2 separate regions of the Homo sapiens genome follow, and region 1 is linked to region 2. Evidence: fine-mapped expression QTL. Tissue or cell type: minor salivary gland. Region 2 holds a variant in brackets; the other region holds the start of a gene. All regions are shown on one strand. Distances are from middle to middle. Region 1 holds the start of FZD10 (frizzled class receptor 10). Region 2 has its middle 50 kb from the start of FZD10.

The links. PIP is the estimated chance that this variant, and not a neighbour inherited with it, causes the effect. A credible set is the group of variants that fine-mapping cannot tell apart.
Region 1: it holds the start of FZD10, and the variant in region 2 is the best candidate, but not a certain one, in a credible set for the expression of FZD10 in minor salivary gland (GTEx, PIP 0.60).

What each region holds. Positions count from the first base shown.
Region 1 is chr12:130,159,990-130,165,361 of GRCh38, reverse strand. FZD10 (frizzled class receptor 10) reads right to left here and starts at 2,898. Exons shown (of 1, transcript NM_007197.4): 1 at 1-2,898. The coding sequence starts at 2,419. The coding sequence ends at 674. It overlaps FZD10-AS1 (FZD10 antisense RNA 1), which reads left to right and starts at 3,684. Exons shown (of 4, transcript NR_033834.1): 1 at 3,684-4,705. RefSeq lists enhancers at 72-617, 703-1,698, 3,285-3,851, 3,852-4,418.
Region 2 is chr12:130,209,911-130,215,282 of GRCh38, reverse strand. No RefSeq gene overlaps it. Among named protein-coding and RNA genes, the nearest start is that of FZD10, 50 kb to the right of the region's middle. The variant C/T (reference allele first, on the strand shown) is at 2,432.

The DNA.
Region 1 (5,372 bases), 50 kb after region 2:
TTTATATATAGCAAAATACTTGTTTCTCTTTTTATTTTCAAGGAAAGAGAAAAAAATGTATTGCACATCGTTTGAGTTCACAAATGTGAGGTTTGATGGAGGTTTCTGTCTTGCAGAGAGACTATTGGTGAAGGCCGGAGTCTATTTTAAGCAACTCCAAATCCACTGGGGTGTGAGGCGGGCCCCGGGTCCTGTCTTTCCTCTGCAGGGATGCCGCCCAGCACTGTGGCCTTCCTGGGGGTGGGCCCTGGGGATGGCTCATTTGTTAACCCAGGGGAGGCTCTTGAATTTGCAAAGCAGTTATCTGTCCTCTTATTTGTAAATGGGTAGCAAAGCCAACTCAAATACACAGATGTATATTTAGGGAGGGCTCTAAACAAAAGTTTTCTTCTGAGGGCTGAATCAACTACTTTACCACAAATTAGTTACACAAGAGGCTACTTCACTGGAGGAGCTTCCCTTCGCTGGAAAACCAAAACAAAACAAAACCCTTTAAGTACATTTTTCCTTTCAGTGTATCACAGCATCCTGAATTTCAGGGTAAACACTTTTTTATGTATTTCTCTTTTGCTTTTATAAAAAAAAAAAAAGAAGAAGAAGAAAGAAAAACACAACCAAGAAAAGCACCACATCTTAGCTCCGGGCGCCCCTGTGCCCTTCCCTCCAGCCCTGTTCACACGCAGGTGGGCGACTGGGCAGGGATCTCATATTTCCCGTGGTGAGTTTTCTGGGGATGCTGGGCTTTTTTGTAAATCCCACCGCTGGTGATCACGCTGGCCGGTTTTCTCCGGCTCTTCTTCTTTAACCTACGGCTGCACACCTGCTGCCAGGACTGCAGAGTCTTGGAGGTCCAAATCCACATCCCGCTGGTGATCCCCACCACCAGCAGCATAAAGATCTTCACCATGAAGATCTCCACGGCGGGGATGGAGGCGGCCATCAGGCAGTCCAGCGTTTTAGTCTGGTTGTTCATTTTGCACTTGTGCTGCGCCGCCAGGATCTTCCAGTAATCCATGTTGAGGCGTTCGTAAAAGTAGCAGGCGATCACACAGGTGGCCGGCACGGTGTACAGCACAGAGAAGAGCCCGATACGCACCATGAGCTTCTCCAGCTTGTCCGTGTTCTCGCCGCCCGTCTTCATCACCCTCCGGATGTGGAACAGGGCCACGAAGCCCGAGAGGATGAAGGACGTGCCGATGACCAGGTAGCAGGCCAGGGGAATGAGCACGAAGCCGGTGAGCGCGTTGACGTCCATGCTGCCCACGTAGCAGACCCCGGTGAGCTCGTCCCCCGCCACCCTGCGCATGACCAGGATCAGGATGGTCTTCACCGCCGGGATGGCCCAGGCTGCCAGGTGGAAGTAGCTGCTGTTGGCTTCGATGGCCTCGTGGCCCCACTTCTTGCCGGCGGCCAGGAACCAGGTGAGCGTGAGGACCACCCACCACAGCGAGCTGGCCATGCCGAAGTAGTAGAGGACCAGGAAGACCAGCGTGCAGCCGGTGCTCTCCAGTCCCTCCTGGATGACATAGAGCTGGCCGCTGTCCCGGTCGCAGGCGATGCTCTCGGCGCCGGCGAAGAGGCGGATGAGGTAGCCCACGGAGTAGACGCAGTAGCACATGGAGAGGAAGATGATGGGGCGCTCGGGGTAGCGGAAGCGGGCCGGGTCGATGAGGAAGGTGAGCACGGTGAAGGCGCTGGAGAAGAAGCACAGCACCGCCCAGATGGCCAGCCAGACCACTGCGAAGCGCTTGTCCTCGCGGCTCCAGTACACGTCCACGCCGGGCGTGCAGAGCGGCGCGCACGACGCGCTCTTCTCCACGTGGTGGAACTTGCCCGGGTTGTCGCAGCCGCCGCGCCCGGGGCCCCCGTCCTTCAGCGGGTGCTCCTGCGCGCTGTGGGGCCGCTGCGGCCGGAACAGCGGCGGGAACAGGCCCGAGCCCCGGGTGGGCTCGTCCGAGCCGTTGTTGGGCGCCTCCATGCACAGGTAGTTGGGGTCGTTCTTGTTGGGGAGTTTCCGGCAGTCCAGGGAGTCGGGCCACTTGAAGTTGAACTGCTCCATAATCGGGGAGCACTTGAGCCGGGCCTGCTCGCACATGACCCGGCAGGCGGGGATGGGGGTAGAGACCTGCTCGGTGCACATCGGCGCGTACAGCGAGCACAGGAAGAAGCGGAGGTGGCCGTGGCAGCCGTACTCCACCAGCGGCGCGAACTCGTGCAACTGGATGGCTGCCTCGCGCTGGTTCTCGTGGCCCATCAGGTTGGGCATACGAGTCATGTTGTAGCCGATGTCCTTGCACATCGGGATCTCGATGGGCTGGCATTTGCCGTCGCCCGGGCGCTCCATGTCCATGGAGCTGATGGCGGCGCACGAGCCCATCACCTGCAGGACCAGCCACAGGCGGGGGCCCGGGCGCTGCATGCTGGCGTTGGACGTGTCCTCGCGGGGAGCTCCGCGCCCCTCAGCGCCGCCGCTCCCGGGCACGGGCTGCTGCTGGCCCCGGCTCTCCACCCCTGCTCGGGCCCCCGCCCATGCCCGCCCGGCCTGGCCCGAGCGCTGCGCACAGCGCCCCCGGCTCGGCTCTCCGCGCCCGGCGTCCGCCGAGTTGGGGGCCGCGGCGGAGAGCAGCAAAGTTTGCAAACAATACCGGGAAGCGAGGGAAGCCCCCGGAGCTCCCGGCGCAGCGGCCCGGCGCGAGCTCCAACTCACGGCCGCGGCAAACTTCGGCCTCTTCTTGGAGCGCCCAGGTGGCGCGTCTGGAGCGGGCTGGCGGCGCGGGCACACCGAGGCCGGCCCAGCTCGCGGCGCCCCCACAGCCCGGGCGGCTCCTCCCTCCCTGCGCCGGCCTCGGCCGGGACCAGCCGGCAGCTGTTTCGAGGTTTGCGTCCCGGGATGAGAAGACTCGCAAAAAGGCAAAGGGGGGCAGAAAAGCCGAGCGCTGACAGGCCCCGCCCCCGGGCCGCGCGCCCCGCCCCGCCGCTGCTTTGCATGAGAAAGCGCAGCGGCCCGGGGCAGCCTCCTCCCCGCCGCCCCGCCGCGGGCTCCCGGGCCCCGCGGGGGCCGATCCCCCCCGGCCTGCAGCCCAGCCTGCGGGGGGCGCAGCGCCTAGTCCCGCCCGCGTCGCCCGCCAGCCCCGGGACAGCCCGCCTGGCGCGCGGGGCTCTGCGCGCTGCGACCCTCCCCGGCAGTCCCGCCCGCCTCTCCTCGCCCTCTCTCTGCCTGGCCTCCAACTTTGCCTCTCGCTATCCTCTCCGCCGGCGCCCCCTTTCCCGGCGGTCCCCGGGATGGTCCCCGGCACCCCGAGGACGCCGAGGTTACGGGAAGTTCGGGGACTGGCGGGAGAAGGGGTTTGGGGGTGGTCCGCGGCGAGGGGCGCGGGGTGCATCTTCTCTTCCTTTTATGGTGAGTCCCGGGCGGAGGGCGCTTTCAAAGGGAGGTGGGATTTGCGTTTTATAGCCTGGGCCATAAAGTAGGCCCTTGCTTGTAAACCTGCCCGCATCTTCCTGAGGCTGGGGAGGTGCTACCAGCCCCGGGCTCCGGGCTCCGAGGAGGGATTTTCTTTGAAATTTCAAAGAGACGAGCTAAGGGGAGGGGGAGGGGCTCGAGAATCCGGATTTTAGGGCCGCTCATCCGAGGTCTCCTCTAAGAAGGCGGGAAGGGGGAGGGGCGGGAAGCGTCCCGGGACTTTGAACACCGCCTCCCACCCCGCGGGAAGTGCGGGCTTGGTTTGTACCGCGGTGACCCCCGCCCCCTCCGAAGCCGCAGAGCCGGGGCCTCGCGCCAGCAGGGCTGGAGATGCCTTCTTGGCGGCTGAGTTTATTTATTATAGGAAGTCATTCGCTCGTGGGGTATTTATGTGATTTGGCGAGTGATGTGCCCGGCCAGCGCCCTCCTTGGCTGCAGCCCCGCAGGAGGACCCGGAGTAGGGTGGGATGGAGTGGGTCGTGGGAGGAGCGCGTCAGCGCCTGCCCGGGGACCCCCAGCTCCCGCGAGGACACGGAGGCGCGCACGCCGCTCGGTTTTCCTGGAAAGTGGAGAAGGAGCGTCCTGGGCAGGTCCTCTGAGCTCATCCCCCCTCGGATTGGGGCGGGTCTGTGACGGGGTCACTTAGGACACGACGTCCCCCCGCCATTCCCTTCCCCCGCCCAGGGCGTTCGCGGTGGGCGCCCACCGCCAAGCCCCACTGTTCCCAAGGATGCGCCAGGTGCTTCCCGTAGCGTCCTGGGTTGACCCTTAAAAAAACAGCACCCCTAGGAGGTGGCCGGCCCTCTCCTCCCAGGGTCTCTCCGGGTCACGATCTTCCAAAGTTCGGAAACTCGCAGGATCGCGTGTGCAATCTCCCGCTACCTCCCGGGGGGCCGGGGAGAGGTCAGAGGAGCGAGTCCCGCGTCCACCGGCCTCGCTTGCCCCCTGCCCGTTTGAGGATAGTTCCAGGGAGCAGGGTGGAGTGTGCGGACATCTTTGGAGGCAGTGCTGGGGCTTCCCGCGTTGGCGGCGCTCCACCCGGCGTGGGGGGCGGCTGCACGGGCCCCCGCGGTGGGGACGCTGCGCACGGGGCAAGGTCTCCCTAGGAAGCGCCCGGGAAGGAGATGGGGCCCGCCAGGAACCCCCCTCACTGACCAGCTTTCTGCACGCCGTGCAGGAGGGGGCCACTTCCTCGGAGAGTATTGGCTTTTAATTAAAACAAGCCCTACAATTTTTACATCGGTAAGAAACTTGGGGAAATCTCACCTTTCCACTCATTCATTCATCCGTTCAACAGACATTTGAGCGCCCAGAATCCCAGAATTAATAGGCAGGTTCAGGCACCCACCCCTGGGTCGCTGTCCCTGGGTGTCCTGGGTCTCACTAGGAGGTGCTGGAGGAAGTCGGGGTGAGGGAGAAAGTGAAAAAGAAGGTAGAAACTCCGGGCAGTTAGAACACCACCTTCAACTGTGTTATTTCCCAAGTGAAAAGTTGCATGATTTTATTTTTGAAAGACTGCCATTTTTATTATAGTGTTTTTTTTTTTGTTGTTGTTGTTTTTTGTCTAGTGAGTAATTTTTCAGGACCTTTAAATTAAAATTAATTCAGCGGAAATCACTTGGCTTTTCTAGAATTTTCCTGGCAAAGGTCCTTCCTGGGCCCTATTTTCCTTCTTTTCCTTTTTGTGTCTCTCCCTCAGCAACTATTAGAAATATTTAGTGCAAGAGTGAGAGCCAAACGCCGGGAGCTGGGTGTGAGCTATTTGAGAAAGTGCCTCCTAATTGATCTTTTCTGTGCTGTTTTAATTCAGCCACGTTCAGGCCCATTATTTTAGCTATAACCACTTCAGATTGCCTTTTTCTCTCGTTTTTTATAAAAATGTCTGCAGAAGTGCTTCGCCCTGTCCAGC
Region 2 (5,372 bases):
CCTCTTCAGAGCGTTCTTTTAACTGAAGAATATATTAAGTCAGGGAGAAAAATGTCATTCAGATGATTCAACAACTTCCCTGTGGTTTCATGTATCAACTTGTCATCAGTAAAGGAAGAGAATACGAAATGCAACCCCGTAGCCTCTACAGTGCTCCTGAAATTGGAAGGGGAGCCAGCGGGGACCACCTTCCTACATGAGTTGCCTGGTTTTGCTTTTTGGTTCTGTCATATTCCTTTGCTGGGATTGGAGTCCTACATTAAGGAGCTTTATTTAGCCCCCTTATTATCTCCAGCCTCCCCACTCCACGAGAGCAATGAGCTTTCTTCCCGTGCAAACACAACCTCAAGATAGGTCTCCTACGCCCTCTTCCTTCCAGATGCTCTCCTACAAGGACCTCCCACTGATAAATTTGGTAGCAGCCGAGGTTCACCACCAGGCTCAAATCAACAGCAGGGGAGCAGTGCAGGGGAAGAACACGGGTTTTGGAAGTAGACAAGGCTGGAATTAGAATTTTGTTTGCATCACTCGCTAGCTCAGTTTCCGCATTTGTAAAGTGGAAATAAGCACATGTGTGTCATAGTCTCGTAATGAGTCTCATAAATTTGAGTCTCTGATTAGATTAGATCATGCTTAGTCTCACACCAATTCCTTCTGCCCCTATGTGTGCACTTGCTATCTCTACCACCTCACTTCTTTTTTATTTACTAAAAGTGGGATTAGGAGCACGATGCACAGCACTACACAAAGCTCTGTGAACGCACACATTGATCTGAGATATTGGTCGACACACACATGTGAAGCTCCCACATGAAATATCAAAAATAACCCCCTTAACTGTTAATCAGAAAACACAAGCAGGTCTTAATTAGAGGGTGATGATTTGCTTTATGGACTCAAAAGTCTCAGAGAGGGTAGATGGCATTTATGTCTTATTGTAGATTTCTAGACCCTTAGATAAAATCTGCAAGAAGCAAGGTGGAGGCACATCTTTGCATTTTCATAGCTCAAAACAATTGAGCTTAAATACAGTCCATTTTTCCACTTAGCACCTTTATGCAACTCCATGAATTCTGGCAAATTCTCCAGACAAGATGATCATAACAGAGAAGAAACCACATTTGTCCTTTTTTAGCATGTGTGCTGGCAGAACCAGACATGTTGGAGAAACACAGTCCAAGGGGGTGAGCATTGTTAGGGAGAGAGGGGATCAAAGGGCTGAGATGGCCCATGCATGCCTTGGATGACAGAGAAAGCTGTTTTATGATTGGAAGTTAAAAAGCCCCATAAGATTCCAGGTGCCTGGAAACAGGAGATGACAGAATCCTGCGGGAGGGAGGCCATTGCTGCTGGCGTCTGTGCCTCCACAGATGCTTTAAAGAGGTAGGAGATAAGACCAGAGTTGTATCTGGAGCACATAACTTCCCATTTAACTCTACTTCAGGACTGGAGTAGCTGAGTGGGGTCATGTGTCATCCGAATTAAAGGTTATTGAGCTGGAGCCAGTGGAGGGAGTGCCAAAGGAGAATATGACCCATGCTCCCCCCAGCCCTTCTCCAAGCAGGTCTTCAAGGTTTGCAGAGTGAAGAGAAGAGCTGCTTCACCTGGGAGGATGTGGGAGCTGGACAACTCCACTCATCAAGATTAATAGAACCTCCTTATCCCCAATACAGTATCTTACAGAAGATAGCAATCTATTTCCCTCTCACGTGAAAGCAACCTGCAGGTGGGCAGCTCAGGTTAATATGGCATGTGGAGAGTTTCAGGGATCCGTGGACTTTGTGGCTTTCATGTTTGCTATTTCTAGGGTGTGGAGCTTGACTTCCTAGTCCAAGAAGGCTGCAGGACCTCCAGCCCTCTCTTCTGCATTCCATGTATTCCAAGCACGAGGAAGAGGCAAGGAAGAGGAGGTCAGGAGCCAGCAAAGCTGCCTTCTAAGACAGCTTCATGAAAGCAGCCTCATGTTTTCCACTTTTATCTCAATGACCGGAACATAGTCACACAGATACACCAAGCTCCAGTGAGAATGGGGAGTGGACTGTTCTCTTCTAGACAGCCAGGCACTGTCAAGGAACTGTCTCCAAGCTGCTGACCAACAACAGTGAGAGATCTATTGATGAAACTCCTTAGGCAGCTCTAGGAGTCTTTGACAACTCAGAGTCCTCAGTTTCCATATACACACATGGAGTTATACATAGCAAATCTTATATTTGTTGTTGATGTATGTTAATGAAAGAAAAAGACTTAAAATATTGCCACACAATTACTAAATAGTATTTGGGAGGAAGCTTCTCTTTGTGGAGTTATTCCACTGAATGGATGAGGAAACAAGAGAACGGAGCATTAACATTTGGCAAGCCTTCTTAAAATAATGGATCCAGGCATTGAACACAGGTCTGTTAACATAACAAAATGAAAGACAATCAAGCAT[C/T]GTATGCCTCCTTGTAAGACAACACCTCACGTAGATAGATTTCCTGTTTAAAAAAATCGAGTTTCATGAACCCCACTGCTCCAGCTTCCAATCCACAAAAAAACACAGAAGACAGAGAAAAATATTACACAACGCCCCACAAGGACATGATTAGCAAAATCGAAACTAGGAAACAGGACAAAAGAAACTGGTTTCTTCCACAAATGTTGAAAAAAAAAAATGGCTGGGAACTCCAGAGATGAAAACAAAAGATAGTACAGCCAGTCAGCAGGTGTGGAGCTGTTCAGCGCCTGGTTCAAACCGACAAGTAGAACCTAAAATCAAAGAGACTTGGTTTGACCCCATATGACTTTTAGAAGACAACCGGAAATTTGAATACTGAGTGGATTTTTGTTGATATTAAGGAATTACTATTTTAGGATAATGGCATCATGGTTATATTAAAGAAAGTGTCCTTATCTGTTAGAGAAACATACTGAAATATTTATGAATAAAATATGATTTCTAGGATTTGCTTCAAGATAATAGAGGAGTGGGAAAGTGGATAGAGGTATAGATGAAGTCAGATTGGCTGTGAACTGACAGTCTTAAAGCTAAGTGACTCACTATTCTCTCTCGCTCTCTCTGAAGCTGGGAGTTCATTATACTACTATATTCACTTGTGTAAGTTAAAATATTCCATAATAGGCTGGGTGCAGCGGCTCACGTCTGTAATCTCAGCACTTTGGGAAGCCAACATGGAAGGATTGCTTGAGGTCAGGGGTTTGAGACCAGTCTGGGCAACACAATGAGGCCTTGTCTCTACAAAAAATTTAAAAATTAGCTGGGCCTGGTAGTGCACCTGTAGTCCCACCTACTCTGGAGGGTGAGGTGGGAGGATCACCTGATCCTTGGTGGTGGAGGCTACAGTGAGTCTTAATTGTGCCACTGCATTCTAGTCAGGGTGACTGAGCAAGGCCCTATCTCAAATAAAATAAAATAAATAAAATAAAATATTCCACAATAAATAAAAATATAACAAAGTAGAATGATTTATAATCCTTTGGGCATATACCCAGTAATGGGATTGCTAGGTAAAATGGTATTTCTGGTTCTAGATCCTTGAGGAATCGCCAAACTGTCTTCCACAATGGTTGAACTAATTTACACTCCCACCAGTAGTGTAAAAGTGTTCCTATTTCTCCACAGCCTCACCAGCATCTGTTGTTTCCTGACTTTTTAATAATCTCCATTCTAACCAGCACGAGATGGTATCTCATTGTGGTATGCACACGTATGTTTATTGGAGCACTATTTACAATAGCAAAGACTTGGAACCAACCCAAATGCCCATCAATGATAGACTGGAGAAAGAAAATATGGTACATATACACCATGGAATACTATGCAGCCGTAAAAAAGAATGAGTTAATGTCCTTTGCAGGGATATGGATGAAGCTGGAAGCCATCATTCTCAGCAAACTATCACAAGGACAGAAAACCAAACACCGCATGTTCTCACTCATAAGTAAGAGTTGAACAATGAGAACACATGGACACAGAGAGGGAACGTCACACACTGGGGCCTGTCGGCGGGTGGGGGGCAAGGGGAGGGAGAGCATTAGGACAAATACTAAATACAGGCAGGGCTTGAAACCTAGATGACAGGTTGATGGGTGCAGCAAATCATCATGGCACATGTATACCTATGTAACAAACATGCGCATTCTGCACATGTATCCCAGAACTTAAAGTAAAATGAAAAAATAAACTCAAGAATTAAAAAAAAAAAAAAAAAACAAAGTGCGAGACAAAAACTATGAGTTCTTCCAAACGAGAAGCTCTAAGCCAACTTTCTCAGGTATTAGGTAAGGCTCTAGCCAAATCTGTAGCCACCCTAGGTAGCCCCTGATGGACTACCCCGGGCCGCCGCTGTGGACTTGAGAGGTCAAGCTGAAGACTTGTGGTTATTGCCGCTATTCAAGGAGAGAAGAGCCTGGGTCCAGCCAGGTTCATTGGCAAGTGTTTCTTCCACATTCACAGGAAAAACTGGGCAAGATAAGATGTTCCAAATACAAGCCCTGAGAAGTGATCGAGCTATAGAAATAATCTCAGAAAAATGATCTCACTCATACTGGGAGAGTGGCAGGGAAGGAGGCAGGGGCCACATACAAAAGAGACTATAGTTTCTTCTAACAGGCAGTCAACAGATAATGTCTAAAACTAATACTATATCATGATGTAATGCTGAAAACACCTTTTTAAAATGGAAATGGACCAGAGAGAGCTGCAACAATCCAGCATGCTTTCTCCTGGGAAAGCAAACATGGAGTCGTGGGGCCGTATGAGAGAGGAAAAGGGATGCTTCTTAAATTATAAGCACTGGATACTCTTAATTATGTGTGTATTTCACACATATTTAAACTTTAAGATGAAGGTTAAAAAAAAAAAAAACAAGCAATAGCAATAACAACAAAAACCAGAATGTGGCCCAACCTGTAATCAGGGGAAAATTCCTGGACTGAACATCCTCTTATTATTAATAAAGTGGCTAAAAACAAATGAATTAAATATTTAACTGAAGAAGCTAAGAAAAAATAAGAAATTAATGAATAAAATAGGTGAAATGGAAAACAAATTAGTTGTATAGAAAAAAATTAAGGAATAAAAAACAGAATTGATAAAGTAAAGAACCATAGCTTTGAATAGATTAAGATAGATAAATCTCTTGGCAAACTTGAGCGAGAGCAAGAGTGAGAACAAGAGAGAGAGAAAAACTAAATTGTTCATGATAGAAATAAGACAAAATACTTAGTGATATGGCAGAGATTTATAAAACTTAGAGAATGCCATGTATACCCTCATACCAAGAGGTATGAAGGTATGAATGAATCCTTATCTGGATGAAAGGAATAATTACCAGAGTTAAATAAAGAAGTAGAAAATCTGGATAATAATTATT